Linked DNA regions of Homo sapiens: all the other regions are reported to be linked to region 2. Evidence: microRNA targets listed by miRTarBase, many of them from high-throughput screens and not tested one by one. Region 2 holds a microRNA gene; each other region holds the end of a gene's coding sequence. Distances are between the middles of the regions.
What was found. Region 2 holds the annotated microRNA hsa-miR-5680 (GAGAAAUGCUGGACUAAUCUGC, at 3,794-3,815, shown strand). A microRNA usually pairs through its seed, bases 2 to 8, with sites in the 3' UTR of a target mRNA and lowers its output. Matches are read on the target gene's strand: a 7mer-m8 pairs with bases 2 to 8, a 7mer-A1 pairs with bases 2 to 7 and ends in A, and an 8mer does both.

Region 1: the mRNA of GTF2A1 is a reported target of hsa-miR-5680. Seed matches in the 3' UTR shown: 7mer-A1 at 3,851-3,857 and 7mer-m8 at 3,922-3,928.
Region 3: miRTarBase lists SMIM18 as a target of hsa-miR-5680. Seed matches in the 3' UTR shown: 8mer at 4,557-4,564.
Region 4: miRTarBase lists DCAF7 as a target of hsa-miR-5680. Seed matches in the 3' UTR shown: 7mer-m8 at 3,880-3,886 and 7mer-A1 at 1,949-1,955.
Region 5: miRTarBase lists SMARCAD1 as a target of hsa-miR-5680. Seed matches in the 3' UTR shown: 7mer-m8 at 4,258-4,264 and 7mer-A1 at 4,053-4,059.
Region 6: miRTarBase lists SHISA9 as a target of hsa-miR-5680. Seed matches in the 3' UTR shown: 7mer-A1 at 259-265 and 7mer-m8 at 68-74.

Annotation. Positions count from the first base shown.
Region 1 is chr14:81,176,129-81,181,203 of GRCh38, reverse strand. GTF2A1 (general transcription factor IIA subunit 1) reads left to right here. Exons shown (of 9, transcript NM_015859.4): 9 at 874-5,075. The coding sequence ends at 981. Among named protein-coding and RNA genes, the nearest start is that of TSHR-AS1, 8.3 kb to the right of the region's middle.
Region 2 is chr8:102,121,690-102,126,764 of GRCh38, forward strand. It overlaps MIR5680 (microRNA 5680), which reads left to right and starts at 3,743; the gene lies at 3,743-3,826. It also overlaps a transcript of NCALD not described here. RefSeq lists silencers at 2,028-2,217, 2,588-2,647.
Region 3 is chr8:30,645,201-30,650,275 of GRCh38, reverse strand. It overlaps SMIM18 (small integral membrane protein 18), which reads right to left. Exons shown (of 3, transcript NM_001206847.2): 3 at 4,212-4,995. The coding sequence starts at 4,966. The coding sequence ends at 4,679. The region is part of intron 2 of GTF2E2 (general transcription factor IIE subunit 2); the gene reads left to right. Among named protein-coding and RNA genes, the nearest start is that of SMIM18, 9.2 kb to the right of the region's middle.
Region 4 is chr17:63,588,519-63,593,593 of GRCh38, reverse strand. It overlaps DCAF7 (DDB1 and CUL4 associated factor 7), which reads right to left. Exons shown (of 7, transcript NM_005828.5): 7 at 1-4,594. The coding sequence ends at 4,422. Among named protein-coding and RNA genes, the nearest start is that of TACO1, 9.8 kb to the left of the region's middle.
Region 5 is chr4:94,288,844-94,293,918 of GRCh38, reverse strand. It overlaps SMARCAD1 (SNF2 related chromatin remodeling ATPase with DExD box 1), which reads right to left. Exons shown (of 24, transcript NM_020159.5): 24 at 2,627-4,446. The coding sequence ends at 4,385. Among named protein-coding and RNA genes, the nearest start is that of HPGDS, 51 kb to the left of the region's middle.
Region 6 is chr16:13,234,569-13,239,643 of GRCh38, reverse strand. SHISA9 (shisa family member 9) reads right to left here. Exons shown (of 5, transcript NM_001145204.3): 5 at 1-4,614. The coding sequence ends at 4,235. Among named protein-coding and RNA genes, the nearest start is that of SHISA9, 340 kb to the right of the region's middle.

The DNA.
Region 1 (5,075 bases), not on the chromosome of region 2:
TCTCCCCCACCAAATCCATGGAATTACAAACAACTACGGACTATAAGTGAAGGCAAAGATGGGAGTGCCCAGAGCCTGCCCTTCAGCTCTTTTTGTTTAACTGTGGATGTACATAGTTTTTGAAATCTGGTGTAAGTGACTGGATGATTAGCATCCTTTAGATGTATTTTTAAAATACTGCTATGTATAAGGTTCCATGGTAGTTAGGTCTTGAGAACTCTATAAGGAGTTTTATTTTGGTAGAAGAAATGAGTCCATAATTGTATTACTTACAAATAATGTAAGAAATGTCAATGAAAATACCATTGGGAATTTAACAGTGGAAAAGAATAGTTTTAGCTGGTAAGATTTGGGAAAGCTTTGTGGAGGATAGTCTTTTTGAGGTAGACCTTGAAAATATATATGCAAACCTGGTAGAGAGATAAGACATTTTGTAAAGAAATATTTTTTAACTACTTTAATGAACACAAGTACTAAAAGCTATAAAATAGTACTAATTACAGATAAATTTGTTTTTAGACCCACCTAGTGAGTTTTGTGTGTGGTTTTTTTGTTGTTGTTGTTCTTTTTGGTGAAATTAAACTTTATTAAGAAACCAATTTTTAGGCCAGGTGCTGTGACTCACGCTTGTAATCCCAACACTTTGGGAGGCTGAGATAGAAGGATCACGTGAGGCCAGGAGCTCGAGCCCAGCCTGCACAACATAGGAGACCCTTCTTCTACAAAAACAAACCAATTTGCAAATACAATACTGTAAATACTGTTTTGTGGGGGGGTGTGTGTGTACGTGTGTGTGTGTATGGGTTTTTTGTTACTTGTTTTCTCTGTTTTCTGATTGTATCTCTCAATTTTTAAAATGTTGTTTTTGTTTAGATACACAGAAGTAAAAACAAATGGAAATTTCATCTCAAGGATGGCATTATGAATCTTAATGGAAGAGATTATATATTTTCCAAAGCCATTGGAGATGCAGAATGGTGAAGAGTTGCTTTTTTTCTTTTATAAATAAAAGAAACTTAAAAAAAATGTAAAGCGGACAGTTTGAAACTTGGGGCATATGCCAACCAAAACTTCGTTTCTGCATGTCAGAAAAGTGCAGTAGAAGCAAAGCTACTGGAACAAAGATAGACCTTGACAACATAGACACTACTTACTGGCAAGCCATGGAACTGTAGCACCTAGGGTTTTTGGGTGGGAGGGTTGGGGTTTTGTGTAGGAAAACCATAATTGTTGATTTTAAATACAGGTACCTGCCACCGGTAATTAGCATGTAAAGCTTTGTCTATATTCCTTCCTCCAACTTGGGTTCAATCAGAAGATACTTGTTGGAATGAACTGAAGAAACTTCCCTTTTGATAGATTGAACTGAAACTGCTTATTGTATGTGGTTATATTTGGTAAAAGTTGCGTGTGAGCTTTTTACAAAAGGGTAAGAATTGTGTTGAATTTTAATTCACTTGTATAAGAAAACAATTTAAAACTCTCATAATAGGTCTTAAATATTTTTACTTGCTATTCTCCCTCAGTGATATATACCTCTTCCTTTCCAGCTTTATGAAACATCTATTTAAGATTTAAAGTTATCAGTGATCATAGTTTGGAGATAAAATTTGACCCAGGAATGAATATTTATTTTAATTAGGTTTTCATACTTATTAAATGTAATTAAAGACTTGGGTCTTGTCTGAGTTCAGTGGAATTGAAACCACAACTTTAATTTCCTTACAGAAAAACTTAATTTGTTTCTTTTAGTGCCACACCTTAAAAAGAAACCCCAAACTAGCTCCTCAGGAATATAGTTTTATTTTGCAAGCATACCATCTAGCTGAAATTGTATACACATGAATATATGTAGACTTTTCCTGTTGGGCTGAAGTGTGTGCTTATAAATGTGTTTAGTTTTTAAGCTAAACATTCAGTTAACAGTCTGTGCATTGATTAGCATAGGGCAGGTGGTGAGGACCTGGATTTTTATTAAACAGTTTAGTAATTATAAAAGTTTCTTGTGTTTACTAGTAAAGAATTTTAAAAATCTATTCTAATTCAACAAGTTTTTAAAATCAACTTTGTAATTTGAGGGGAAAATTTGGGGGGAAGAGGTGGGTGGGCCACTAAGTTACCTCTCTTTCATTTGGTGGCCCTTCCAGGCCATTGAAAATAAAGACGTTGGCTCCAGTTTGCACATTGGGAAGAAAGCATAGAAATTTGACTTGTATATTAAAAATAATAGAAATGTAATATGTATATTAAGAATGCATAGGTCTGTATTCTGTAAGGGGCTCTGAAGAACAATATGGCACTGCTGTGTTCAGTGTGAATTCACTGCCTGGGAGAACTGCAGGAATGCTTGTCTTCACCATTGTGTTCTTACAACGAATTCAACTTTCCATGGTTTATCTTGACAAAATTTACATGTGTTTAGGTTACTTGTATATTGATATATTTTTTTAATCTTCAGTTTTTGTCTTCCTTTTGCCTTTGTGTTTTCAGAAGTAACACATGAACACTTTTTAAAGTACATTACAGAGAAGAAAACTGTGAGCTATTATATAGTGTTTCTTTTTTAACACAAATCTTTTAACTTTAAAAAAAGGCAAAAATTTTTTTTTTCTACTTCCCACCCAGCTTACCACCTTGATCTCTTTAACTTATGTTCTAAACTTTGGTGTTAATGGTGGTGTCTAGCATGCTAGTAGTTAGATTTTATTTAGATGCCATAACTGGTAATACAGCTTTTATTTTGACTATATTAATTTAGTTTTTTGAGGGGAAGTTTGTTTATTCTGTGACTCTCAAAGCACACAGAGGTTTTAAAATATATATTATTAAGACTGAGAGAAGAGGAAATGGGAGGGAGTAACATCACAGAAGTGCTGTTGTTCAACTGTTCTTCAATATAGTTGCTAGTAGGTTTGTATTTACTCAGTAAGGAAGTCAGTGACCTGAACTACCTATAAAAATTCAGCAGTGCTGCAGTGTTGCTTAAGTGAAACCCTTTGGCTATCTAGTAGTTTTTATGCTACTGAAACTTGGATTACTGTATGATATTCAGCTTGTCTTGGGCCCTCTATGTAGACAAACATTCATATTCATAGTAGTGTTGTATACTGGCCTGTTTTTATAACTTTATTTTTCAAATATTAACAACCACTGCTTTCAGAGTGGTTATTTTGTTATTTTTGAAGCAGGAAATAACCATTTGTATTTGCACCTGCGTATTGCATATGAATTATGGTATACTTGGCAAATGCTTTTCTTTTACCTGTGAAAATTCTGAAAGCTGGTCCAAGCTACATTGCATACCAAATTGTGCTCTTATATATTATTTGCATCGTGTCCTTTTTAATCAAATAGCATGTTTTAGTTTTATTATAGTAGCTTTTGCTGTAAGAATGTCACTTGCTTATCTTTTATTGTACTTGAATTCTTAATCATGCTTTTAACATTGTATTTAACAAATCATTTCGTATTAGGTTCCATTAAAATGTCATTCCTTTGAAAAGGCAAGGGATTTCCACTTTCAGAATTTGAAAATGAAAGTAGCATGTTTATCTAAAGGCAGAAAATAGTTCGGACTTGGTATTATGAAAATAAGTAATGGTTTCTGGAGAGGATTTGTTTAGATTTGCACAGATGGCGATGGCACCTTTTACTTAAATTAACATTAATCAACAGTGCTAAGGAAAATTTACACAAAATTACAAGATAAAACATGGAAATGTGTGCCTTTCAGTATACAAACTCTTGCTTGGTGGCCATTTGGGTAATCAGACCATTTGAATGCCTGAGAGCATGTTTAATTTCTGTGGAGTGCCACATATGGCTAAAACAACTCTTTAATGTGCAATTAATTTCTAGAGTAAAATGTCTGTTATGTGAGGGGGATCTTTATGTTGGGCTTTTCTATTTTTTAAATGTTCACATTTCTTTCTGTTAATTAAAATGCCATCATAATGTCACATTTACACTGTTGCCTCTTTTAAAAGCAAAGCCACTTTCTTGTTCTAAGATTACATCAAGACTTGAGCAGTGTGTAGTAATTAAAATGTGTGCTTAATGAGCATAATAGATTCTGGTTTTAGGAAATAACATATAGCTTTTATATGAATATTTTCTTTTGCTATAATGAAAGTCACAGATTTTTTTTTTCCTGGCTTTTATGGAGGAATGAAAAGAGTTGTCTCCCTCTAAGAGTATACTATTTTTGATTCTCATAGCAATAATGTCACCATTCTTATCAGAGGGTAAATACCCCTTGTATAGGAAAACAGACATAATTTCCTCTTGGGAGTTCTCTTTATGACTTAGCATTTTCTTCTACTTGAGAAAATTCCTGTTTTTCCGATTATTTCATCTTGAACTTTCTTTTTTTTAAGCTTTTGTGCAATGTAATAGTTTGTTGATCCATCTTTGTACATTTTCATTTTATTTCATGTCTTTCTCTCACCTACCTGTCAGAATCAGCTATAGCAGATTTTGAATTCTTTAGTTAAAAAATAGTTGCTTTACTTGTTTCCTCATGAGTTTGTTAAATAGCTTTGCATTTTAGTCCTCTATTATGCTATGAAAATTATTACGAAGTTTATATTGTTCCCTTTTTAAGCCTGCCTTACTCTTGTCTTTTGTCATTGTCTATGGTTTAATGAAGAACACACCAAACTAACATTTTTGTTTATTTTGAGGAACAAAAAAACTTTTCTCTTTTAAGGGAAGTTACTACACATTGAGTTAGTAACTACTCTTTCAGTCAAGGTTCCTTAATCAGTCCAGTCTACATCAGGACTATGACTTGGGGGGCGGGGCTAATCCTTTTTGCTGTTCTGAGCTACTATTGTCAACTGCTGTTGTACATACTGTTATGTGTAATGGCGTAAATATATTTATTATGTTTGTAAAATTCATTGCAGATCAAGGTTGCTCTTCTGTGATATATGGGATATTATGTTTTAAAGACCATCTTGGAATACAATTAGAGAACTTAGTATTTTGATGTACTAAGACCTATTTTAAGTTTAATATTCTACTTTGCAAAAACTTTAATTAAAGATGTTATTTAAAAAAAAATGTTGCTTGCT
Region 2 (5,075 bases):
AAAGAGAAGGGTTCAGATCGTTACATTTCTTCATTGTTAGTCTGCCCCTCACCATTAAAAGGACACACCTCGAGGGCAAGGATCCCATCAGTTTCAAGACAGTATGCCACATTTCTTTTGACCAACTCTTGATTCCTTAGTATTTCCCAAGGTTTTTTATCGTAGAGTGTTAGATATAAAGCTTGGTTTGGTCCTCCTCTCTGTCTATTATTCTCTGTGTTTGATTCTGGCTTTAGTGAAAAGGACTGGATTTTGTTTGACTGATGTTTGTTTATTCATTCAACAAACATGTACCTACAATCAGAATCCATCTCTCAAGGCACATGCAGGTGCCTTGATACATAGATACATAGATAATGTACATAGAAAGATACATAGATAATGGTGCAGAATGATGCGAGGGCTACATCCAGGGTAGCATGGCACCTCTGGGAGGGGGAGTGCCATGCAGCCTGCTGGAAGGCAGTGTCGCAGCAGCTGAGCTGCCAAGAATGCATAGGAGTTGACCAGACAAGGAAGGTTGGGGAGATGATAGATGCTGCGACTCAGTGGCTTGAGCAGAGGCTACGTGGGGGGAGGCTTGGGAGATGAGGTTAATGAAGAGAGAAGGGTGGGACCGTGAAAGTCCCTGGAGTGTGAATTCTATCCTGAAAACCACAGAAAACCTCTAAAGGAAATTAAGCAGAATGACTGGCTTAGATTTTTGTTTTTGGAATGAGTGTCCACAGTTTGGAGAATGGACTGGAGTAAGACGGTCCTGATTGGGAACAACAAGCTCAAAAGCAATTGGAACAATTCAGGCAAGAAGTGCTGAGAATATGAACTAAGTCAGTGACAGCAGGAACTGAGAGAAGAGGGCGTATAGCAACAACAACAAAAATAATAAGAGCTCACATTTATGCAGCACTTACAACAAGGCATGATGCTTAGTGCTTTCTGGGTATTAACTCATTTTATCTTCACAGTAACCCTGAGATAGCTTTGTTATCTATTATCAACCTCATGCCTCACATCAGAAAACACAGTAGAGGTTAAGTAAGGACCCCAAGATCCAGGAGCTATTGACGAATGAGCCACAGCTCAAACCCGGCTGTCTGGCTGCAGAGCCCACACTCCTAATGTCCATATTGGCAACTCTCCTAATACAGTTACAGACAGAGGGTCTACAGGACTGGACACTGAATGGTTGAGACAGGGGAGACTCCAGGACAATTTCCAGAGATCTGGCTTGGGTAGGTAAACATGTGAATTTCAGTTTCTTGAGCCTCCTCCCCAGATCTGTCCTTGCCCCGCTACCGCAAGTACCCACACTCCCACCATCACACCACACCCCCTCTCCTTTGTAGTCTGCATCAAGGCCTTTGGCCATAAAACACGGGGATCTCCCAATTGGAGTGAAAAACCTCACAAGCATTTCCACTTAGGTCTGAGAAACCCCTGACAGCAAACTCTGCTCTTGGTAATACAGTGGCTTAGGTCTGTTATTTTCAAATCAGCCAGAAGTAGGAAAACTTTGAGCGAGCTTGTGTGGTTTCCTTCTGAGAGAGTGAGACCTTGGCTGCCTACTTCTGTGTTTCACCGTAGCTGCCCTACGGAACAGAACATAGACCTTCTTGCGGGGCTAGCGTGTAAGCACAGCAGCACACCAGCCGCCTCGCCTGCGGCCTCCGACAGACCCGCAGGAAGAAACTGACCCTGGCAGGAGCTCTGCAGAGCCAAATGGCATTCTTTCTCCATGCACAAAAGTTAAAGCAAGCATCTGCAGCATTAGAAAAAAAAAAAAAAAACTTGTGTATTTCCTGCGGACAGGGAGACCTCCTGCCCCTCCCGGGCTGATACAACCCACTTTGCACATCCTGCTTCTCTGGGAGCTAAAAATAAATCGGTATGCACTGAAAAACACTCAAACACATCTCCCCAGCACACCCTTCCCAAGTCCTCGAGCGCAAGGGACACGAATCTTTCAGGTCCTGAGTCCAAAATGCAGACCACTTCCTCGTCCGTGTTCAACCAGCGCCTTTCGGCCTCTCCCTTGGCCCCCTCCCCAGACGCCCACGCCCCGCACTCGCCTCCTGTGGCCTTTCCGGGCAGACTCCGCAGGCCCGGGATCCAGCGGGTGCCCCGGCCCCCGGCCCCGGCCCCGGCCCCCGGGGCGGGATGCTCCAGAGGTCCCCGGGCCGCCAGGCTCACCAACGCCCCCTTCTGCCCAGCGCGCCCCATCCCGCCGGCCCCACGCGCCTCTGCGCGGCCCTCTGCAAAGTTGCTCTCTCCTTTTCTGCCGCCCACCCTCAAGGTCTGTAATTTTGTTTTGTTTTCCCTCAGAGGCACTGGGGGAATGACAGAGGAATTGACAGGGTGAACTGCACCCAGGAGGGAGCTGCTGGAACCAGGTTCCCAGAACCGCGCGCTCCTCGAACCCACCCCTGCGCCCGCGGCGCACCGAGCGCACGGGTCCCCCCCAGCAGCCGCCCCCGGCACACCCGCCCCGGCTGCAACTCCGACTCCGCTCTGGCTCCCGAGAAGCGGAGGGAAGGCGCTGCGACTCACCGCCTCGGCCGCTCCCAGCGTCTGTGTCGCTTCGGGCGAGGCGGCGGCAGCAGCGGCAGCGCCTTCCCTCCGCCCGCCTCCCCCTGGACAGCACCGTCGCCAGCCGCGCCCCCCTCCCCAGCCTGGCTCGCCGCCTCCCTCCTCGCGGCCGCAGACCCCCTCTCCACTGCAGCCCCGCAGGCAGCCTCTCCGGCGTGGGCTTCACCGCGGGGTTGCAGGGGGGCCAAGATGAGGCGCGGGATTTGCAGGTGCAGTGGACGCCCCCCCCCTCCCCCGCTTGCCCTGGTGCAGCCTCCGGGCGTGTCCCCACGGTGCCCCATAGTCCTAGCTCACCGCCCAGGCCTCTAGCCAGCCTGCACTGCTACTTTCCAAGGGGTGCCATCTGCTTGCCTCCTCGGGTCCTGGGAGGTCAGATTCAGCCTAGAGCACCTCCTTCCAAGCTTCGATTTGAGGGGGGGTCTGGGGTCCCTGCTCTACCGCAGTGAAGTTCAAGGGAGCCTTGGAAGGCAGTTGAAAAGCTTCTCAGGTGGTGTCCTCTGGACTCTTCATGCCCACAAGGTGGGAGGGGGGCTGCTTTTGTCTAACTAGTGCTTTCTCTACCCAAAGCCTTCTGTAAACTGTCTAGGAAAAGCTTAACAAAAAATCCGGAGGAAGACATCTAAGGGGCCCCTCTCCTGCCCCTCCTTCCTCCCCTCAAATTTTTCATCTCGTGTGGAGATAATGAGAAGCAAAATGTCTTGTCAATTCATTCACCCAATATTTATCGAGTACCTGCTGGCTGCCAGCACCTGTTTCCTGTCTTGCTGTGTCGTCCACTCATGGCCTCTCAAAAAGCCACTGTAACTAACTCCTTGTGCTTGTCAACCCTGGTGACATTTCCAGAACCCGCAGAAGGTCTCAAGAGCAACTCAAATTCATCAATTTAAAAAGTTGCTGCTTAAAAATAACAAGGCTGCAAAGGCACCGTGACCTGGCCTTCCTCGTTGTAATGTTTGCAAAATCTTTTAACATGACTGGTTATAGAAAGGACAGTTACATTGAGGTCCAGACAGCTGCCAACTCTGATTTAAACACCAAGTAAAAGTTTCATCTAATCAAAAGCACCCTTTCCTAGCTCTACCGGTTGCCTTCAATTGTAAAACAAAAATTATCTAGGAGGCTGTTAAACCATCATCAAATACTAAAACCTTTGCTTGCATTGGGTTAGCAGGTTAGCCCAGCATTTCCCTTCCTGGACACACAGGAGGAGAAATGCTGGACTAATCTGCTAATCCAATGCAAGCAAAAATTTGCATTGGAAAGTTGGATTTTTTGGTTTTTGGTTTTTTCTTTTTTCTTAATACTAGGCCCGACCCCGAGAGAATCTAATCTAATTGTTAAAAAAAAAAAAAATCCGGGGTTCAGGGGTGTCCAGCTTTGTATGGGTATTTTTTTCACATGGGCCCCAGGAGACTCTGATGTGTGGCCAGGGTTGGAAACCACCATAGGATTAGCCAATCATCAAGCAGGGCCTAAGGGAACGTCCCGTTGATACAGCAAAAGGTCTGCACAGGTGTTGCAAACTCAAATGTCCCTGAAGGATAAAAGCAGGTGACAAAGAAGTAACTTAAGTGGTTATACAGGGACAAACTGAGAAGGGCACAATGGCCCTGAAAAAGGCAGCCTCATTTTTCTACGTGGGAAAAGAGGGTCCAGTGTGGCCATCAAGTCGGGGTATTTTATTTTATTTTGGTTTGGTTCCCCCTGCCCCCAAGAGAAGCCAGAAGTTCACGTTTAATGTGAACTCTTCTAATTTAAAAATATTAGTAACTTATTTTTTAAATATTTTAAAAAATTTTAAATATTTTTTAAATATTTCTCTATAAGCCAAGAAAATAAGAATTTGTAGGCCACAAGTGGTCCCCTGGTCATCGGTTCGTCACCTGTAGTCTGGACAGATTCTGTGCATAGGAAGCAGTTAGGAAGGTGCTTGGGGTGGGATTCCTCAGAGAGAGAGGTGATTTTAAAGTCCACTTTATCTACTTTTCTTTATTGATGTGATTTTTCTTTAATGATCTCTACTGTTAAAAAAAAAACAGTTTTGCTGAGGTATAATTCACACATCATACTATTCACTCAAAATATGCAATTTAATATTTTTTGCATATGCAGTTAGTTGTACAAACTATTACCATAGCCAATTTTAGAACTGATTTTCATCACCCCATAAAGAAATCCCACACCTATTAGCACTCATTCCCTTCTTTCCCCAACCCCCAACTTCCAGTGACCACTTATCTATTTTCTCTCTATGTAGATTTGCCAATTCTGGACATTTTATATAAATGGAATCATACAATTTGAGGACTTTGTGACTGGCTTCTTTCACTCAGCTTAATGTTATCAAGGCTGTCTCATGTTGTAGCATGCATCAGTACTTTGTTCCTCTTTATGAACAAACGATGTCATTGTATAGCTCTATCACATTTTGATTATCCATTTATCAGTTGACAGACATTTAGGTTGTTTCACTTTTTTACTATTGTGGA
Region 3 (5,075 bases), 71 Mb from region 2:
CAACCTTGCATTTATTCCTGAAATAAATCCTACTTGGTTATGGTGTATAATCATTTTTATTTGTTGTGGTACTCAATTTGCTGGTATTTCGGTCAGGATTTTTGCATCTCTATTCCTGAGGGACTTGATGTGTATGTAGTTTCGTTTTTCTCTGGTGCCTCTCAGGGTAATTCTGGCCTCCTTAAACGATTTGTGAAGTGCTCCCTTTTCACCTATTTTCTGAAAGAGTTTGTGAAACTTTGTTATTTTTTAAAATGTTTGATAGAATTCACTGGTGAAGCCATTTGGGCTTCAGCTTTCCTTTGTGGAAAGCTCTTTGTAAGAATTTTTTCTTTTCAGTTTACTCAGATTTTCTATTTCTTTTTGAGTTACTTTTGGTACTTTGTGGCTTTTTAGAAGTTTATTCATTCATCATTTACATTGTCTGAGGTTTTTCAAAGTACTCCCTTATAATCCTTTTGATATCTATAAAGTCAGTAGTGATATCCCCTCTCATTTTTTTTGAGACGGAGTCTTGCTCTGTCTCTCAGGCCCCCCAGAGTAGCCGGGATTACAGGTGTGTGCCACCACGCTCAGCTAATTTTTGTATTTTTAGTAGAGACAGGGTTTTGCCATGTTGGTCAGGCTAGTCTTGAGCTCCTGACCTCAGGTGATCTGCCTGCCTCAGCTTCCCAAAGTGCTGGGATTACAGGCCTGAGCCACCTCACCCAGTGTCCTCTTTCATTTCTGATTTTAGGAATTTGTCTTTTCTCCCTTTTTTCTTGATGAGTCTAGCTAAAGGTTCATCAATTTTGTTGATTTTTTTCAAAGAACCAACCTTTGGTTTCATTGGCTTTTCTGTTTTGGTTTTTGTTTGTTTGTTTGTTTGTTTTTATTTCCACATCAGTATTTATTATTTCCTTCCTTCTGCTTGCTTTGGGTTTAGTTTACTCTTACATTATTATCTTTTAAACAATGTCAGTGGAACTTAATTCACAGCTGAAATTATTTAGCTACTTCAAATTGTAGCAATAATAATTTTTATTGATGTTAATTTTTTACACATCCTACAAGCTGTTTTATAACTGATTTGGAAGCAAAGCTTTTTTAAAAATCAAAGTAGGCCTGTCATTCTTATAATATATATTAGGTTTATATGTCGTTCCAATGAAATGTACATAGAATTAACTCATCATAAACAAAAATGTAAAAACTGTTTTAAACATTAACATAGCCACTCTCAGGCTTAAGCCACTTGAGCCTTTGACCTGCTCAAGAATGTCTTTGCATTTTGTAGTTTAGGCTACAGGTATTGGGTAGCGAATTTCATCTTCCCCACAAACAGGTCCCATTCGACAGCAGGAAGAGCCCTTGTAGGGTTTTACTTCTCTTTGGTTGGCCAGGGTTTTCCCTAACAGTCAGGGTAGGATAAACTGTGTTGTGGTAACAATCCCAAAAATCTCAGTTTCTTAAAACAACAGAAGCTTGTTTCTCCTTCATACTACATGTTTATCATGGATTGGTAGAAGTCTTAGCTAGTTATAGTCACTCAAGGACCCAGGCTGGCAGAGCAGCTGGAAGCTCAAATGTTTGTGAGTTCTGTGCTAGCAGGAAAACTAACTCTGGAAGAGCTTGCACTAGCAGTTAAGTGCTGTGGCCTGAAGGTGACACATGTCACATCCTCTCACAGCTCATTGGCCAGAGTTAGTCACAAGTCACTCATTGGCCAAAGTTATGTTCCCAGCCATAGGGGGCTCTGAAGTGAATGCTTTCCTTAATGAAGAGAGCTGGAAATATTGGGTGTAACAACTAAAGGCTACCATGCCACTCTAGTTCAGGCCACGGTCATTGGATTGCTAGGTTAGCTGTTGACCAGGTCTCCTGGTTTAGCTGCTTTAGTGTTCATTCTTCATACAGCTGTGATTTTTCTCATTAGATCATGTTGCTTTCAGCTCAAGCTGATTGTTACTGTTTTTCAGATAAAGTCCATGTTTTACTGCAGCCTGCGTGCCTGCCTCATCTGGCCTCTAATTATCTCTTAGGTGTGGTATCATACTGTTCTCCTTGTACTCTGTCCTAGTGATACTGACTTGTAGCTCCTCCAACATGCTTTATTCTCTCTTGCCTCTTGGCTTTTATTCGTATTATTTCTTCTTCCTGGAATATTCTTTCTTACCTCCTACCCTCTTTTGGTTCTGTCCTGTTCTTTTAAGTTTCAGCTTAAAAGTCATATTATTCTCATTCTTCAGTGTGAATTCACTGTATAACCTTTGAGTTCCCATATCACTACTCTTTTTGACAGAGCTTCCAATGTGCTCCATTGTAGTGACGTGGTTCCTTGTTTGCCACTCTGCCCTCAGTATCTGGCCTAATTGCTGACATGTAGTAAGCACTCAGTAAATATTTGTTGGATGACTAAATAATTACAGGATAGGGTGGGGGAGAAAGTTGGTAATGTACACTATTAAAAAATCTGATTATTAAAGGACTTGTATACTTACCATCTATTGCCAAGAATCCAACGTTTGTGAAAATGTATATGGTTTTAACAGTGCTCAGTTCCTGGTTTCCAAAGTATTTTATATATCCAAGCTTCACAAATCCTTTTAAAGTTGGTTATATTATTTGTGTTTGTTTCTAATGTGAGAATAAATATAAAAAATACTTTGTGGAAGAGTTATTTCAGACCGGCAGTTAAGATTCTTTTGTTTGTTTGAGACGGAGTTTCACTCTTGTTGTTCAGGCTGGAGTGCGATGGCATGATCTCAGCTCACTGCAACCTCTGCCTCCCAGGTTCAAGTGATTCTGCCTCAGCCTCCCAAGTAGCTGGGATTACAGGGGCCCCATTCCCATGTCTGGCTAATTTTTTTGTATTTTTAGTAGAGATGGGGTTTCACCATGTCAACCAGGCTGGTCTCGAACTCCTGACCTCAGGTGATCCACCTGCCTCGGCCTTGCAAACTGCTAGGATTGCAGGCGTGAGCCACCGCGCCCAGCCGATATTCTTTAAATTGAAAAGAACAGATTTCCTCTCTTCACCACACAGTTATTTATTGCACACAAAAAATTCCATCAGTAATAGAGATTTAAAAAAAGTCTTTTATAATACCTAGTGCTTTTTTTTGTCCCCACAGCCCTCTTAATATACCAGCTATTCTAATTCTCCATATTTGTTTTCAAACCTTACTCATGTGTATATTTATAATATCAATAATTGTATTAAAACTTTTATATGGTGAATTTATTTTTTACTTTTAAATACTTGTCTATCTTGCCAGACTTTTCGGTTGCTTTTTTTTTTTTTTTTTTTTTTTTTTGAGACGGAGTCTTGCTCTGTCACCCAGGCTAGAGTGCATTGGCATCATCTCGGCTCACTGCAACCTCTGCCTCCTGGGTTCAAGCAGTTCTCCTGCCTCAGCCTCCCGAGTAGCTGGGATTATAGGTGCCCACCACCATGCCCGGCTAACTTTTGTATTTTTAGTATAGACGGGGTTTCACCATCTTGGCCAGGCTCGTCTTGAGCTCCTGACCTTGTGATCCATCCGCCTTGGCCTCCCAAAGTGCTGGGATGACAGGCATGAGCCACTGTGCCTGGCCTTCAGTTGCTTTTTAATAATTCATTAAGTTGATGTGCCACATTTAGTTAAAGTCTTAGTTATTTTCAATTTTTTGTTATTTTGAGTAATGCCATTGTAAAAAATCTTTGTACCTTGAGCTTGTACATTTGAACTAAGTGCTTAGGATACATTTCCAGGAGTGGCATTTCTGACTTAGGGGTAGTGTGGTGGTTAAGAGCATGCTTTTGTTTGCTCATGGGTGATAGCAAAATAGTGTTAGGGTCACAAAATATCTATATAGCCCTTGGAATTCCAAGAAATAAAACTGCCATATTTCAACAGGTGTTGAGTGGCCCTATCTTTTGACCTTTTTTGGGGGGATGGGGGGAGGGGCAGTCTTTCTGCCTTGGTTATCTTAGCCTTTGAGAGTATAAATAAGAGAGGTAAAATGAAAGAACAAACTCAGGAAATGAAGGGGTGTAGTAGTAAGTTTTAGTTTGAAAATAGACTAGGCCTTTCCTATATCATGCATTTCTAACTAAACAGTAAGTCAGTTTTGTGAGAATTTTGTGCAAATATACTTGTGGCATTTTTGATTATTTTGAGACTTTTTCATACTAATCCTACATAAAACTCAAGTCATTATATATTTATATAAGTTGTTTTCAGTAAATTAGAAAATACTACTTTTTAATAAATAGGAACTTTATATATATAAGTGGAAGTATTTTACTTCAGACTTAGAAACATGTTTTAAATAGCCTTTTTGTTACCAACACACTATTTTTTGTCTACATGAATTGGTTAGTTATAAAATCATTTTAGCATCATTAGCCTTGCTTGTCTTTTCCAGCTTATCTTTTGCTGCTTAATATTGAACTCTAGGAATCTTTTATCCAGTTTTTGAAGTGTCAGTATTAAACAGATTAGTAAATTCACATTCATGAAGTTTTACTGTATATTTAATGAAATGGCTATACACACAAACAGTGCATGTTTAACTTTTTTTTCCCCTTCTACTAGAAATGTTTTAACCATTCAGTCAGAATTTGTTTTGTAGCAACAGTTGGCCTCAGAATATATTTTTTTTCTCAGAAGAGGTTGAGCTGCTTTCAGAGATTTTGTTCATCTTCTATAGAGTGTTAGACCACTTCAGTTTCACGTTTTCTGATGTTGTCCATCATACTTCTAAGAGGGTTGGGTTCACTTTTCAAGTCTTTCACGGTTTTGTTTTTTACACAGCAGCAGCAGTCAAGCACTTCATAAAGGAAAGCCAGCACCACTAAAGATACCACTGTAAATATAAATAAAAGCAGGATGACAAAGCAGGCAGTGTTCCAGTTGTCATGGAAAGGGTAAATTTTTTGAACTTGAAAACCAAGGTACTGATAAACAGAGGTAGTGGTTTCATTCCAGTGGCTGGAAGCCATTCTTAGAGATTCCACTTGCTCTTTTGAATCTATAAAAAAGGTAGAAAATGAATTTATGTAGCAAACTACAGATCTGTTAATTCAAATCTCAGTACTAAGATTTCTTAGT
Region 4 (5,075 bases), not on the chromosome of region 2:
GTTCATAATCACTGGGTTGTCCCAAAGGTGGGTGCCTATAAACTTTCCAGCTGTTACATAGACTGTCAACATCTTTCTTCTTGAGTTTAAACTTTCTTTAGCTTATTTGTTTCTCGTTGGATATACCAGTCCAAGCCTCTTTGGGAAGGCACCTGCATGTTTCCATATTTTAAAAATGACATCCAGAAAGTAGCCTGAGAGGACCTGGCCCATCCCATGTGGCCACACATTTGACTTTGACCATTAGCAGCAGTGACACTGTGAGAGGGGGAGAAGGTGCAGGTGGGTGAAGTGGGCAAGGGTCTGCAACACGAGACGCTCTCAGGAGCTGGCCCAGCCAGGGCCTGGCCCAGGGTTCACAGTGACTTTGCTCTGCTCCGCCCTCTTCCCTGGGAAAACCAATCTAAGTATCAAGCATGATCTTCCTTCTTCGTCCTGGAGTACACACAGTAAAGGGAAAAGTCTGCTTTGAGGCTTCTACTTCAATGGTCTCCCCTACCCCAAGCCAGGAATGAAAGGGGCTGCCATATTCTCAAAGTGGGGAAGGCAGAGGGACAGTACTGGGCTGCCCTCCCACGTGTGGTAAACCCTGCAGCTGCTACATGTCTTCACAGCCCAGGAATTCAAGGCCCAGGTGGCAGCAGGAAGAAACAGTGGAAAAGCAAGGGGAAGAGAAAAGAGAAAAAGGAGGGGGAAAGTCTGCATAACTGTCATAACCTCTGCTTCTCCTGCTCTGTAACAAACCCACAACCAGGAAGAGTCATGGTCTGGAACAATCATGGGACCCCAAACGCCTGTAGGTTTTTTACCACCAAACATCACCCATGGCTGCTCTAAGCTGTCATTTTGTTCCCACAGTTACCTAGCATCACGGATGCCCAATTTATGGCCCAGGAAGGCTGACCCAGGCTAAGGGCAGTCTCACTCCACAGCCATGCAATGGACAGTCTGAATGTTTCCCTACCCCAGACCTTCACTGACCTCTACTATTTCCTCCTCTGATATAAAGAAAACACTTTAATTTTCTCCTGCATCCTACATCTCCTCCTAAAATTTTGGCCCTAATTGTCATCAAAACCTTGTAGGATTCTGAATTTTTTGTTTCTTCCTGAATCTTAGCCAGTTCTCTCAGAGCCAATCCTGGATTTATAAGGAATTTTCACCTATTTTTTTTTTTTTTTTATTTTTTGAGACGGAGTCTTGCTCTGTCGCCCAGGCTGGAGTGCAGTGGCACGATCTTGGCTCACTGCAAGCTCCACCTCCCAGGTTCACGCCATTCTCCTGCCTCAGCCTCCCAAGTAGCTAGGACTACAGGTACCCGCCACCACCCCCGGCTAATTTTTTTTTGTATTTTTAGTAGAGATGGGGTTTCACCATGTTAGCCAGGATGGTCTCGATCTTCTGACCTTGGGATCTGGCCACCTCAGCCTCCCAAAATGCTGGGATTACAGGTGTGAGCCACCACACCCATCCTCGCCCAGTTATTAAATACCTTCCCTCTTCAAGTCCTAACCTTGCAGGCTAATTCCTCCCTGGAAGAAGAGGATTCCAATGCTCCTGAGCATAAAAAATTCAGGTCCTTGAATGACGTGGACCCATTCTCCAGCTCTCTGGTGGTAGAGGCCTGAGGCCTAATTTATTCAGCACCTCCATCCTTCAGTCAGAACAGATGAGGACAATACAGGCAGCTGTGCCTCAGGCTGCCAGGAGCAAAAGGGCCATCACCAGCTGGGCCACAGCCTGGCGGAGCCTCCATGTGGGCTTCCTGCTAAAGTCCTAGTGGCTGCTCCTCCCGCAGTCAGGGAGAACAGATCCAGGGCCTCCCACCCAGTCTCGCTGGCTGTCAGTTTGAGAACCTCAACAAATTACAGAGTTGTTTTTGCAACTACAACAGATCGGTGCTTTCTGGAGCATGGATGGCTTACAGACTTTCTAAATCCTGAGACTGTAGAAATCCCCTCCTCAGTCATGGGTCGTCGGGCTGGTGGAGTAAAGGGAGGGTAAGAGAGCTGGGACTCAAAGACCAGCAACTCATCAACTGTGAGTATGTGTGTGCTTGCTTAGGGGGGTGGAGTCCCCCTGGGTCCCCGGTGGCATTCAGGGGAAGACTGTACTGCAGGACCTAAGGAAGGATGACAGGAGCTGGGCGTCCACAGGGCAAGGGAAATCTCAAAAGTTGTTGGTTTCCAGAGTAAATAGCTATCTTATGCAAATATGTTCTAATTATTATTTTTTTTTCAAGTTGTTGTTTCTGAGTTCCAGCTGACAAATTCCACCATACAGACCAGGCGTAGGTGCAGATCAGGAAAGGAATCTTAGAACTCAGTGGATGTAAGCCCTGCCCAGCAGACCAGCCCCTTCTACCACTGACTTCCATTTCAGACCCTTCTCCACAGGAAGGAACTGATGGCCTCCTAAACAAGCAGCCATCAGCTTGGCCTTGCTACCCTTGAGAGAAGGACCCAGTAACCATTATCAAACACAATGAAAAGCAGAGGAGGGTTCTGACCAAGAACTGCTCGCTTTGTATCTCCAAACGATGCAGTGCAAATCCAGTGGCAAATGCAGGAGAGGCAACCACAAGCACATGGCCAGCCAGAGTCCTAAAATCAGAACAACAAAGTAAAAGGGTAGAAGGGGAAATATGCTGGCTAAAAAAAGAGCCTTTTTCTTTGGGACAGGTCCCTGTATGGTAAAGCAAAGAGCTAGACTTTTGGCATATAATGACATCTACTTCTGAAAAGGAAGACTTAACCAAAAAAGCTTAAGGGCCCAGAAGAACAAAGTTACTGTTTTACTTCTCAAGCAGGTGAGAACCAAAGAGGACAAAACCATCATCCTTCAGGCCTGCTACTCTACTAATCTCAGATGAGCAATTCAGAGGGACTTAAAAACCTTCGGGTAGGAGCAGAGCGCAAGGAAACAGCCAACTTTCCCCCAAGAGCACATCCCAAACTGCCTGCCCCAAGGGCTCATCTAACGGTGGAATCACACATATGCCCCTCCATGGAACTCATTCACATAACAGAAAGACACCTGCGGCCTGCAAGTCAAAAGACAACTGCAGGCTACAAGTCCAATACTGCTCAGAACCTAAACTGGGGGAGAGAGGGGTTGACAGGTGTGGGTAGAGCTCTTAACTGGCTGACCCTGGGGGTCTATAATTCCTTTTCCTTCTTTTTTTTTCCTCCCTTTTCATTACCCACAGTATAATGCTTTTTAACTATCTATCCACTTGACAGCCCAGGATTGCCGCAGTCCATCAGTCCATCTCTCATGTAAGGTCTTGTTCAGGGTTGGAAGCACAGACAGGATGCCTCGGGAAGACTCTCTCACCTCAGAACACTCAATCCAAAGAATGCCCAATATACCACCAGGCACAGTAAACTCAAACAACAGAAGCACCGAAGTTCAACTCAGATATCATTCTTGCCTATCATTGAAAAGACACTAAGTGGAATGGCCTGGGGCTTATATTTGGATGGAAAAACAGACTCTGAAAGAATGTACTGGAAATATGCTTGAAGTTCAGCTTCATGAAACGATTCCCCTCAAGTCAGGTACCCTGAGAGCCTGTTTCTCTCAGCTCTACCATGCTGCCAGTGGGAACCAATGGGCTGGACAGTGGTGCTTCAGGGTAAACAGAGGCTTCCTATGTCTGTTTACAAGCCCAGAATGCCCTTGAGAGGAGCCAGGCTAAGAAAGGTGTGATGAGTCAGTGGACTTCAGAGCACCAAGGTGGTTTGGACTCCCGGTCAGGTATGTACTACACAGGCAGTGACTCAAGAAGGCAAACTGCTCATGGGGCCAGGGGCCCAGTACCAGCTCCAGGCACTGAGGGAAGAGAAGAAGGTGCAAAGAGGGAGGACTATAAGACAAAGAAATGAAGCAGGAGAGTAAAATTCTTTTCATAAAAAAATTAGCCTGATAGATAACAAATATACAAAGTTAAAATTTGTTAAACACACTGATACTAGGAGAAAAGACAAATTGGTATTTGTTCCCACGTAAGTGCTAACACGAACATGGACATGGACGAGACATGAACTGCTGCCTTGGGCAGCAAACAGAGACACCTGGGCAGAGGAATAGACACAGCCAGTGCGTGAACTGCTCCTCAACACAACGCCTGACAAACAAATATACACACATTTTTTAATTGAGGAACCAAAGGAGAAGAGGAAAGGAGAGAAAATCTTAAAACTCAGCCCTGGGCTGAGGAGGCGCCACACAGCACTGAGTCTGCCACAGAGGGCGATGGGGTGACTGGCCAGGAACTCCTAGAGCAGCTTCTGGTAACAGTGGGTGCAAAGCAATGAAAGACATACTGGCCACTGGAAACATGTTTCTTCTTACTTTGGGGGTGGGGCAGAGGCAGGAAATACAAAAGCCCCTGCCTCGTGGGCACAGCGCCACCAACACTACACTCTGAGTATCTCCAGGCAGTTGTTGTAGCAGATGGCGATCCAGTCGGGCTGAGTTGATGCCCACTGCACATTGTTGATCTCTCCTTCAGCTGTGTAGGCCAGGATAGGGTCCTCAATGGCTCGGGGCATTTGCTGGATGTCCCAGATGAGAGCCTGGTGGTCATCCGCTAGGGACAAAGAAAGCCAGCAAGCAAGGTCACAAGTGAGGCAATGCGGATGATGATCCCTGCATTTCAGGAGCAAGTCACAGTTTACAAAGCACCCCCGTGATGGCGGTTCTATTTTAAGCCCCCATTTTATCGATGAGGAAATCGAGATTCAGAAATGTTAAGGCACTTGTTCCAAATCACACAGCTATTCAGCCAAGTGAGTGGCAGAGCCAGAACTCAAATCTAGGCCCTGACTCCATCTCCCAGATGTCCCCAGGCTCTATCCACTGCACTAATGAGTCCTTCTCATCTGGGTCAGGTATCAGGAGTGGACAAGGGGATACCAAACATGTCATTTGCAGCCACTTAAAATACTTGAGTGGTTACAAAGATCATTCTCTGATCATTCAATATAATGAGAGCGTTTCTTCCCTGTTTGATGGACATTTATGCTTCAGTGAGGTGTTATATAGAAGACTGATAAAGTAGTGCTGATATG
Region 5 (5,075 bases), not on the chromosome of region 2:
CTATACGACAAATGTTTCTTCTTACATCCCCACAATATCACCCCTTACCACAAGATCTCCCTTCAGCTTAATCTCTCCCACTCTAGGTTCCCACGCCACCCCTAATCCCGCTTGAAGCAGCCCTGAGAAACATCACCCATTCTCTCTCCATACCACCCCCCAAAAATTTTCACCACCCCAACACTTCAACACTATTTTGTTTTGTCTTATTAATATAAGAAGGCAGGAATGTCAGGCCTCTGAGCCCAGGCCAGGCCATCGCATCCCCTGTGACTTGCACGTATACATCCAGATGGCCTAAAGTAACTGAAGATCCACAAAAGAAGTAAAAACAGCCTTAACTGATGACACTCCACCATTGTGATTTGTTCCTGCCGCACCCTAACTGATCAATGTACTTTGTAATCTCCCCCACCCTTAAGAAGGGACTTTGTAATTCTCCCCACCCTTGAGAATGTACTTTGTGAGATCCACCCCTGCCCACCAGAGAACAACCCCCTTTGACCGTAATTTTCCATTACCTTCCCAAATCCTATAAAACGGCCCCACCCGTATCTCCCTTCACTGACTCTCTTTTCGGACTCAGCCCACCTGCACCCAGGTGGAATAAACAGCCATGTTGCACACACACACACACACACACACACACACACACACACACAAAGAACTCATAAAACTCAACAATAAGACAACAAACAAGCTGATCAAAAGATGGGCAAAAGACCTCAATAGACACCTCAACAAAGATACAGGTAGCAATAAGCATATGAAGAGGTGCCCAACAAAATGTCATTAGGGAACTGCAAATTAAAACAAGATACCACTATATGACTGTCACAATGGTAAAAAATCCAAAACAGCAGACAACACCAAACGCTGACGAGGATGTGGAGCACGGGTAACTCTCATTTGTTGCTGATGAGAGTACAAATGGTACAGCTACCTTGGAAGACAGTGACAATTTCTTATAAAACTAAACATATGCTTATCATACAATCTAGCAATTGTGCTCCTTGATATTTATTTCAAGGACCTGAAAACATGTCCACATAAAAACCTGTCCACATATATTTACAGAAGCTTTATTCACAATTAAGAAGTCAAAAAAGAGAGGAGGATGTTGGGGAGAAAGAAAGAAGAGGAAAAGAAAAGCCCAGATAGGTATGATCTTATTTAAGGTGTTTCTTTCCTCTCAATGTTTTATGAAATTGAAAAAAAAGTTACCTAATACTTTAGGCCGGGCGCAGTGGCTCACGCCTGTAATCCCAGCCTTTGGGAGGCCGAGGAGGGTGAATCACTTGAGGTCAGGAGTTCGAGACCAACTTGGCCAACATGGTGAAACCCCATCTCTACTAAAAATACAAAAATAAGCCGGGTGTGGTGGCGGGCACCTGTAATCCCAGCTACTCAGGAGGCCGAGACAAGAATCACTTGAACTGGGAGGCACAGGTTGCTGTGAGCCGAGATCACGCCACTGCACTCCAGCCTGCATGACAGAGGGACTCTGTCTCAAAACAACAACAACAACAATAACAAATATAAATTATTAAGGATTACACATAAAAACAGTGTATTTTCTAAGTACCTTGATTCTTTGGATCAAATTTTCTTGTTATTAGTTGCTATAAGTAAATGATAATAGGTTGTATGTGAATCTCATTCAAAACCCTCCAACATGTAATCCAGGCAATCTGAAGAAAAATTACCTTTAACAAAAGAAATGCAAATAATGTTCTAGATAATAAAAGTAGTTAGCTTTTCTTCACTCTTCTGCATAGCTAAATTTCCCCCACATCAAGCTTTAATGAAGACAGAACTAAGTAAAAGTGATAATCCAATGCTTATACAAAATTATGAAAATTCAAAATAAGATAATCCTATTTATACAAATCATAATACAAGTATAAAGTATAACCACAGCAAGTTTCATAAGGAAATATTTAGCATTATTATAACCTTTAGGTAATCTTTTTGCGCTGAAGGACAATACATTCCATTATCCCATTGTGTATGCAAATTAAATGTCTCTTTGCTTCTATACAAAGAGAGGGTGGCTAAGCGAGAGTGAAGTCAAGCAGAAAGTGAACTGCATATTGAATTTATAATTTCAAAAATACATTTTTGGTAAGAGTTAAAACAATCCGAATTCCTTAAATTTATGGACTGTGAAGTATCACACGTAAGGTCACACAAATGGAAACCAAATCTCCTCATACCCCGTCTCTCCACTACACGATAATGCCAACTGTTAGGAACTACAGTAATGTTTCAAAGTAAGTATCTACTGGCATAAAGTTAAAACTCTATGGGGGTCCCAAACAGTTATAAAAATGCATAAGGCATGTCTTCTTTGTGTAGCTTGCATTTAAAAAATGCTTCAGTTGGTCAAGATATTACTCCAACTCTCGCTTCATTTGCTCTGTAGTGATAATGGGTTACAGTATTTACTGACATCAGTCCAATGAAGGAACCAATGAGAATACATCCTAAGTAGTAAGTTCCAATTTACTGGCAAACAGGCAATATTAAGCACATAAGATAATCTCATTTGTGCCCAATATTATATGATTTTAAGGGTAGGAGGAGGAAGGGTTAGAAACTATTAAAAAGGGTGTGAAAATACAACTTATGATCACAAATATTTTTATTAAGCCCAAGACATAATAGCGCATTACAGGAAGAACCCAACTACATTTCATTAGAGATAAAAGTATGGATATAACAACAACAACAATAACAACAAAAAAAGAAACAGCCTATCATTGAAAATACATTAATACAGAAAACATGAGATATCCATTATGAGATTTTAAAAGGTAAAATTCCTAACAATTTGAATAACTGATTTGGGTATAGTGATGTACAAGGAGGTAGTATTAACACATGAAGACTCCTTTTAGCCCTGTAATGGTAAAATATATTCAGTCTGTTCAATATACCATCAAGACTGGGGTTAAGCCGTGAGTTCTCAGTCTTTAATATCTAAATAATCACTGTAAGAGTTTTATTTGCCTTCCAAATCCAGAGGGTCGTACTACCTAGCATCTTAGCAAGTTAGGATGCTTTGAAAAGCATGATTTCCAAAAATTAACAAATCTTTGATTTATAAATAAGTTTATTTATAATGATATTTACATAATAAAAACAAAACACATGGAACTCACAAGTTATACAAAGAAACTGATGTATAATAAAAACAGCAATATAGACTGACAGGCAGAAATTTAAAGAAAGATTTAATAAAGAGTTAAATATCAAATAGACAACTTCACTTCTAAATTTCACTTTGTCACTCACACTGAATTGGAATTGAACAATGGCTCTCTCTTCAGGCGGTCCTGTACTGGAAATTCTGGAAACTGGTAAAATATATTTTGATAAGAGTTTCAAGTTAATGACCTATTTCCATGCAGTACCTAATGCTGCCTTTAGATGAAGTCACATTCAGTCTGCTTTGAAATGAAATAGCTTTAAGTAATCTGTTCTGCCAGGCTAGAAAAATGTCACCAACATTTTGCTGATGCATGGAGATGTGGCAGTAATAAACTACTATTTAGAGAGGAAGAGAATTGGAGCAGAAGTGACTGGGCAACAGTTTCAAGAGAAGCAAAAGCCGGGAGAGGGAAATCAATGAAAACATGCACAAGATTAGGCAGAGTAATATGCACAATTAGTGCAGTTGGAAAATGAACAGAAGGAATTAATCCATGGAGCAAGGTAGGGGCTTCTTTAGTTACTATTCACTGGAAAACAACTTAGTGCCTAGCCAAATAAATTTGTTTCAGCAGAAGTACTTGAGAGGACCTGGGGGATGTTAGTATATGGAATGCCACCTTTAAATTCAGGTTGAGTTCTTGCTGACATTGGTGAACATCTGCTTCAAATAGCAATAAAATGAAAGCTATATAATCTATACAGCTGCATTCTTTAACATAATAAAAAAGAACTTCAAATGAGACAAGCAAAAACAAGACATAAGCATTGTCAAATAAGGCACATGTAAAAATCTACACACATTATCCAGTGAAAGACAATATATATATATTTGGAGGTAGAAATAATTACAAAAATACTGACATTTCTAAAGCATTAGCATATTTGTTACAAACAATCACCAACTAATCCCCATTCAGAAAACTGCTTTGTAAAATGATTATTCAACATCTTCAGAACTACATATTTGTGGCTTCTTTTTTGAAATTTCACGTGTGAGTATTTGGAGAATTCAGTTAGTGGCAAAAAGTTGTCCATACTATGAGAAATGTAATATGGAAATTATAAAAAGTTATAAATGTTCATAAACCCCATGGTCATCATAATGTAAATGTCCTTGAGTGCACCAAGTTGATATTTCCTCATCAATTGAGAGTTCACAGTTCTTATTTCACAGGCCCATTGATGTTTTTAGTAATGTGGCTATATCTGCTGGCATACTCCCTTCATCACCTGTAGGTCAGAAAGTAGCATTAAAAGCTTTATAAAAATATTTTACTTAAAAAAAAATTGTCTCAATTATTTTTTTTCTTTGGTGAATTCTTACTCATCTTTCAAGGGCTAGTTTGCTTCAGTGTCACTCACCCCTGTTAAAAACTTTCCTAAGCTCTACTTAGATTAGGGCTATTTCCTCTATGTTCTTGTTCATATTGCCAACATAGCAATCTAAGGTTATTTTTCCAATTTTATAAAGCTATATAAAAATACACGGTAATACACTGGATCGTATCTAATTCATGGTACTTAACTTCTCACATTTGCTAAATAAAAAACATTTATGTAAGAAATGGAGTAGGGAAAACAAGGATAACAAACCCAAACCTAAACCAACGAAAACCAATCTATATTCTTATTTTTCATCTAAAGATATAATCACTGACTCAGACCCACACTGTATACATATAAACAACATTCTGAGCACAGCATACCAGCTGATGATTAAATTAGCCACTTTAAATTACCTGGTTTATCCAATGTTTGCCCTATATTTTAATTAAATGAGGCCCCAGTATAAGCACTTACAGGAATTATTTGAGATTTTCTAAATCTCTTTGTGTCACAGTGGCAGATAATCTAGCCAT
Region 6 (5,075 bases), not on the chromosome of region 2:
ACTTCTCAAAAGACATTTATGCAGTCAAAAGACACATGAAAAAATGCTCATCATCACTGGCCATCAGAGAAATGCAAATCAAAACCACAATGAGATACCATCTCACGCCAGTTAGAATGGCAATCATTAAAAAGTCAGGAAACAACAGGTGCTGGAGAGGATGTGGAGAAATAGGAACACTTTTACACTGCTGGTGGGACTGTAAACTAGTTCAACCATTGTGGAAGTCAGTGTGGCGATTCCTCAGGGATCTAGAACTAGAAATACCATTTGACCCAGCCATCCCATTACTGGGTATATACCCAAAGGACTATAAATCATGCTGCTATAAAGACACATGCACACGTATGTTTATTGCGGCACTATTCACAATAGCAAAGACTTGGAACCAACCCAAAAGTCCAACAAGGATAGACTGGATTAAGAAAATGTGGCACATATACACCATGGAATACTATGCAGCCATAAAAAATGATGAGTTCATGTCCTTTGTAGGGACATGGATGAAATTGGAAATCATCATTCTCAGTAAACTATCGCAAGGACAAAAAAACCAAACACTGCATGTTCTCACTCATAGATGGGAATTGAACAATGAGAACACATGGACACAAGAAGGGGAACATCACACTCTGGGGACTGTTGTGGGGTGGGGGGAGGGGGGAGGGATAGCATTAGGAGATATAGCTAATGCTAAATGACGAGTTAATGGGTGCAGCACACCAGCATGACACGTGTATACATATGTAACTAACCTGCACATTGTGCACATGTACCCTAAAACTTAAAGTATAATAATAATAATAATAATAATAATAATAATAATAAATACTCCATGGATACATTAAAAAAAAAAGAATAAAAAGACCTTCCCTATCCAAACTTCCCTCTTCAGTTCATCTCCCAAAACCAACTGGAAGATAATAAACTATGAAGCACTTCCTGAGCTTTCCATCCTAGACAGGACTACTTGGAAAGTACGTGTCCTTCTTGGGCCATCATTGTGGCTACATCTTAATGACCAGTCTGCACCTTTGCTGCCAAAATTACAACTGCAGACCCCAAGGAGCCCAGTTCAATTGATGAAGTTTATTCAGAGGAGAAGGAGCATGCAGAAGGAATACAATACTACAGATTTAGAGGCCAAGAAAGACTCTTAATCAGAGTTGAGATAAGGGTGGGACGAAGTGGACTGGGGGCAAAGAGCAACCACGAGGTAAAAGGGAGATAAGAATTATGGAAACTTTGAGCTGGAAAGAGCCTCACAGATAAGTCAACCCAGGGTTTTCTGAAGTGTGGGCTATGCACCCCTAGTGTATGCACAATGATCATAGGCAGTACATAGCTACAGCATTGTTCAACACTGACTTGCATAGGAAATGATTCCCCTTTCATTTACTTTTTGGTCCATCTTATTAGTACAAAGAGAAAGTCTTCATTGGGTGCTGGTATTTTTAACAATTATTTAATACCTGATGATATCATTTTAAGAGAGAGAGAGAAACAGAAACAGAGAGATGGAGAGAGAAAGAAAGAACCCCAGGCTTTAGTTCAGACTCACAGACAACAGACTCCAGCTGGAATTTAATCATCGCTGCTTGTTTCCTTTGTACTTATTTTTATGTTTGCTTTCTATTTATGGCAACTGATGATTTTTTTTAAATTTGTGATGAAGACAGGAAGTTTTCATTTTAAAAACAAAATGCATTAAAATGAATCAATTTAGATACAAATATTGTGAAGGTGATATACAGAGATGCCAAAGTGTGTTGCAGGTACATAGCTCATTAACGTCAAGGAAACTCTGACCATGCCCAGTGGTATTTACTTGACTCTGGGAAGCTCTGGGGTCTTCCCAAGGAGGCTGAGAAGGTGGGCACTAAATCTCTGACCCCAGCTTTGTACAGCATGGTACCTTTTTATACATGGAGATCTCCTATTATGCGTTCTTTGAAAGATCTCTTTTTTTTTCTTTTTTTTTTTTTTTTTGAGATAGTCTCACTCCGTCACCCAGGCTAGAGGGCAGTGGTGTGGTCTCAGCTCACTGCAACCTCCCAAGTTTAAGCGATTCTCCTGCCTCAGCCTCTCGAGTAGTTGGGATTACAGGCACCCACCACCATGCCCAGCTAATGTTTGTATTTTTAGTAGAGACGGGGTTTCACCATGTTGACCAGGCTGATCTCAAACTCCTGACCTCAGATGATCCACCTGCTTCAGCCTCCCAAAGTGCTGGGATTTTAGGTGTGAGCCACTGTGCCTGGTCAAAAGATCTCATTTTTAAAAACAGGTAGAGGTTTTGCAGTTTCAAAAAGCTTGACCTACCCCAATTCCCCATGTTTCAGATGGGAGACTCAGGCCCAGAGGGATCAACTGCATTGTTGGTGTCCTCGTATCTGCTGGGAGTGAGGAGAATAAATATCTGGTTTTGCTGATTTCGTGATGTCAGAGTGGAGAGACAGGTGAGGCAGAACCTTGCAGCTCAGGATTTCAGAAAATACTCTGAGTCTTGTTTGGCCAGACCATTTATAGCTTCTGACACCAGAGTTGCTGTGGGTCTGTTGAATGTTAATTAACTACCAAAGACCTTTAGGGGCTAGTTGAAAAACCTTCCACCTTAGATAAAAATCTCTTCTCTCTCAATCCACTTCTTTGGGCTTCCACAAAACAAACACAACTTGTAGGAAAACTGACTTTGCTGGGACCCCAAGGACTATGGATTATGAGAACCAACCAGAAAAACAACCTCAGGACATTCTGGATGGGAGATGAACACATGAAGTATGTGGGGAGGTAATTTGGAGGGACCATGGGAATTACGGGACCAAGAAACATCTGACAGGTTTGAGAGGGCTAGAAAATGGAAGGACTAATTTTGATAGTGTAGAGAGTAGGGAGGTCTTCGTTCTTGGGTACCCCTGACATTGTAGCAGCCCCTCAGAGGGTGTTATGGGGTGGGCTCACCTACAAAGGAAGGATGGAAACATCTTCTACTACTGCAGAAAAAGAAGAGGAAGGAAGGCTAAAAGAACACAGGTTGCACTTGGGAAACAAGACTGTCATTAAACAACAGTAACACATTGAAGGCACCACCCACGCTTATGACATTTTCAGTCCAAAGCAGTTGAAGTTTGGCAGCGGCGGCGGCAACGCGCTGAAGGGAAAGGGATGTCAGGGACATACAGTTTATAGAGGACTTGTTTCTGTGGCTGTTTCAGGTCTTGGAGGCAAAACCCAGAAATCAGAGGCTTCTGGATCCTCATCTGATCTCCTGTGGACTTTTCCAACTGTGGATTTGTTGTTGTTAATGTCAACAAGTCTTCAAGATTTTTGAAAAAAAAAAAACACCTAATTTGCCGTTTTTATCTGTTTTGTAGTGGGCTTACATTTTAATCCTCTTTTTAAAAAGTTATTTGATACTCTCCGGACCCTCTCCGTAAAAGCCCATCCCTCCCATTTCCACGGTCATGGTCCTTATGGGAGTTCTCTAAAATGTTTTTTGTTTTTTGTTTTTTCCTTCCCATCATTGTCGGTGGGTTCAGGGTCTATTTACTTTCTGTGAGTTTGAGGGTGTGTTGTTTTTTGCTTTCAACATGGATGATATGAAAAGTACTATAAATAGAATGGTTGGGGTCCAGTTACTGTTTCATGCTCGTCAAAATTTTACGTCCACGTCACCACTTCTTGGAATTAGAAAAATGCTTCTAATGTGGGCAAATTCCTCCCAGAACAACTCCTCTTCCAGAATACACTCTTCTCTTGTGTCCTCCCTCATTCTCTACCCCCATTTCCACCCTGGCTTTCGAACCTAGAAACAGACAGCACGTGGCAAGTAGTGTATGTGCTCAAATGGACAATTTCTCTAAATTGTGCTACTTTTATATTTTGTCACCATGGATTTCAGTTTCAAGTTAGGAGGAAAAGAAAACTCAGCCCCACGGTTTGGGCATGTGAGTTGGCCATCTTGGGCCTGAAGTGGAAAGAGTGTGCCTCATTTTCCCCTTTGCTGTATTGCTGAATGTCCACGCTTCGGTCTTTCTCAGCTGCCCGCCGACACGTTACAGGCATGACCTAGGAAAAGCGCGACTCTGTGTCCCCAGTAGGTTTAGAGTTGGTTCTTGTTGAGAGTGAGTGTGTGGACGCATGTATTAGGGGAGGATGGGGAGGGTGTGGGCGGGGTTGTTTTTTGCCTCTCTCAGTTGAGTGTGGTCTCCAGGGTGCTCCCTGTGGTGAAAGCTCAGACAGTCACTTCTGTTTTGCTGTTGGTGATGAAGTATGGCTGTGGGGGTGGGTAGTGCTGGGGGCGAGTTCCCAAGGGGTCGCTGGAGCCTGTCTCGGCCGTGCCAAGCTTGCCCTTGTTGCTGTAAGCCTGCCGCCGGAGGGACTGCTCGTTGGGGTCCCAGCCCTTAAAGTTGGTGGTAGAGGTGTAGGCCAGGGGATGTGGGGGCATCTTGTTGGTGCGGGACTTCTGTCCATTCTGCTTGGCAGGACCGTGCTCAGGGCTGAAGGCCCGGGGCTCGTCCTCCACTCTTACGGGGTGCAGAGGTAAGTTCCCCTTGGCAGCCAGCTCAGCCAGGTGCCGTCGCTTGGTGTAGAAGTCGTCATTGACCTTGTCAGCTACACATCGGAACGGGTGGATGAAGAAGGGGAAGAAAGAGAAGAGAGAGAGAGAGAGAGAGAGAGAGAGAGTTAGAGACTGGCATGTCAACCCAAGAACAGCATAAAAATGGGCCAACAGTCCAAACAAGACACACTAGAAACTCCACCTAGAACAAGACAGAGGGAAGGGCAGCACCATGCCCTTTTCACAAACAAAGAGCAGGACCAAGAGGATTAAAGGCATCCCCAAGGGAACCTCTAGACCTCCGAAATAAACACTTCTCCCCCCACAGTCCCACCTACCATTCTGCCATCGTTGGTTTGCCTATGAAATTCGCGTGTTGTTTCTTTTTTATTAAAATGATACATTTTCATTAGAGAAAAGAGTGAACATGTTAAGTGATCTTCCTATCTATGACCTACCAATCAAGACAGCCGATAACAACTTTTGGGTGTATTTTCTTCTGGTATTTTTAATA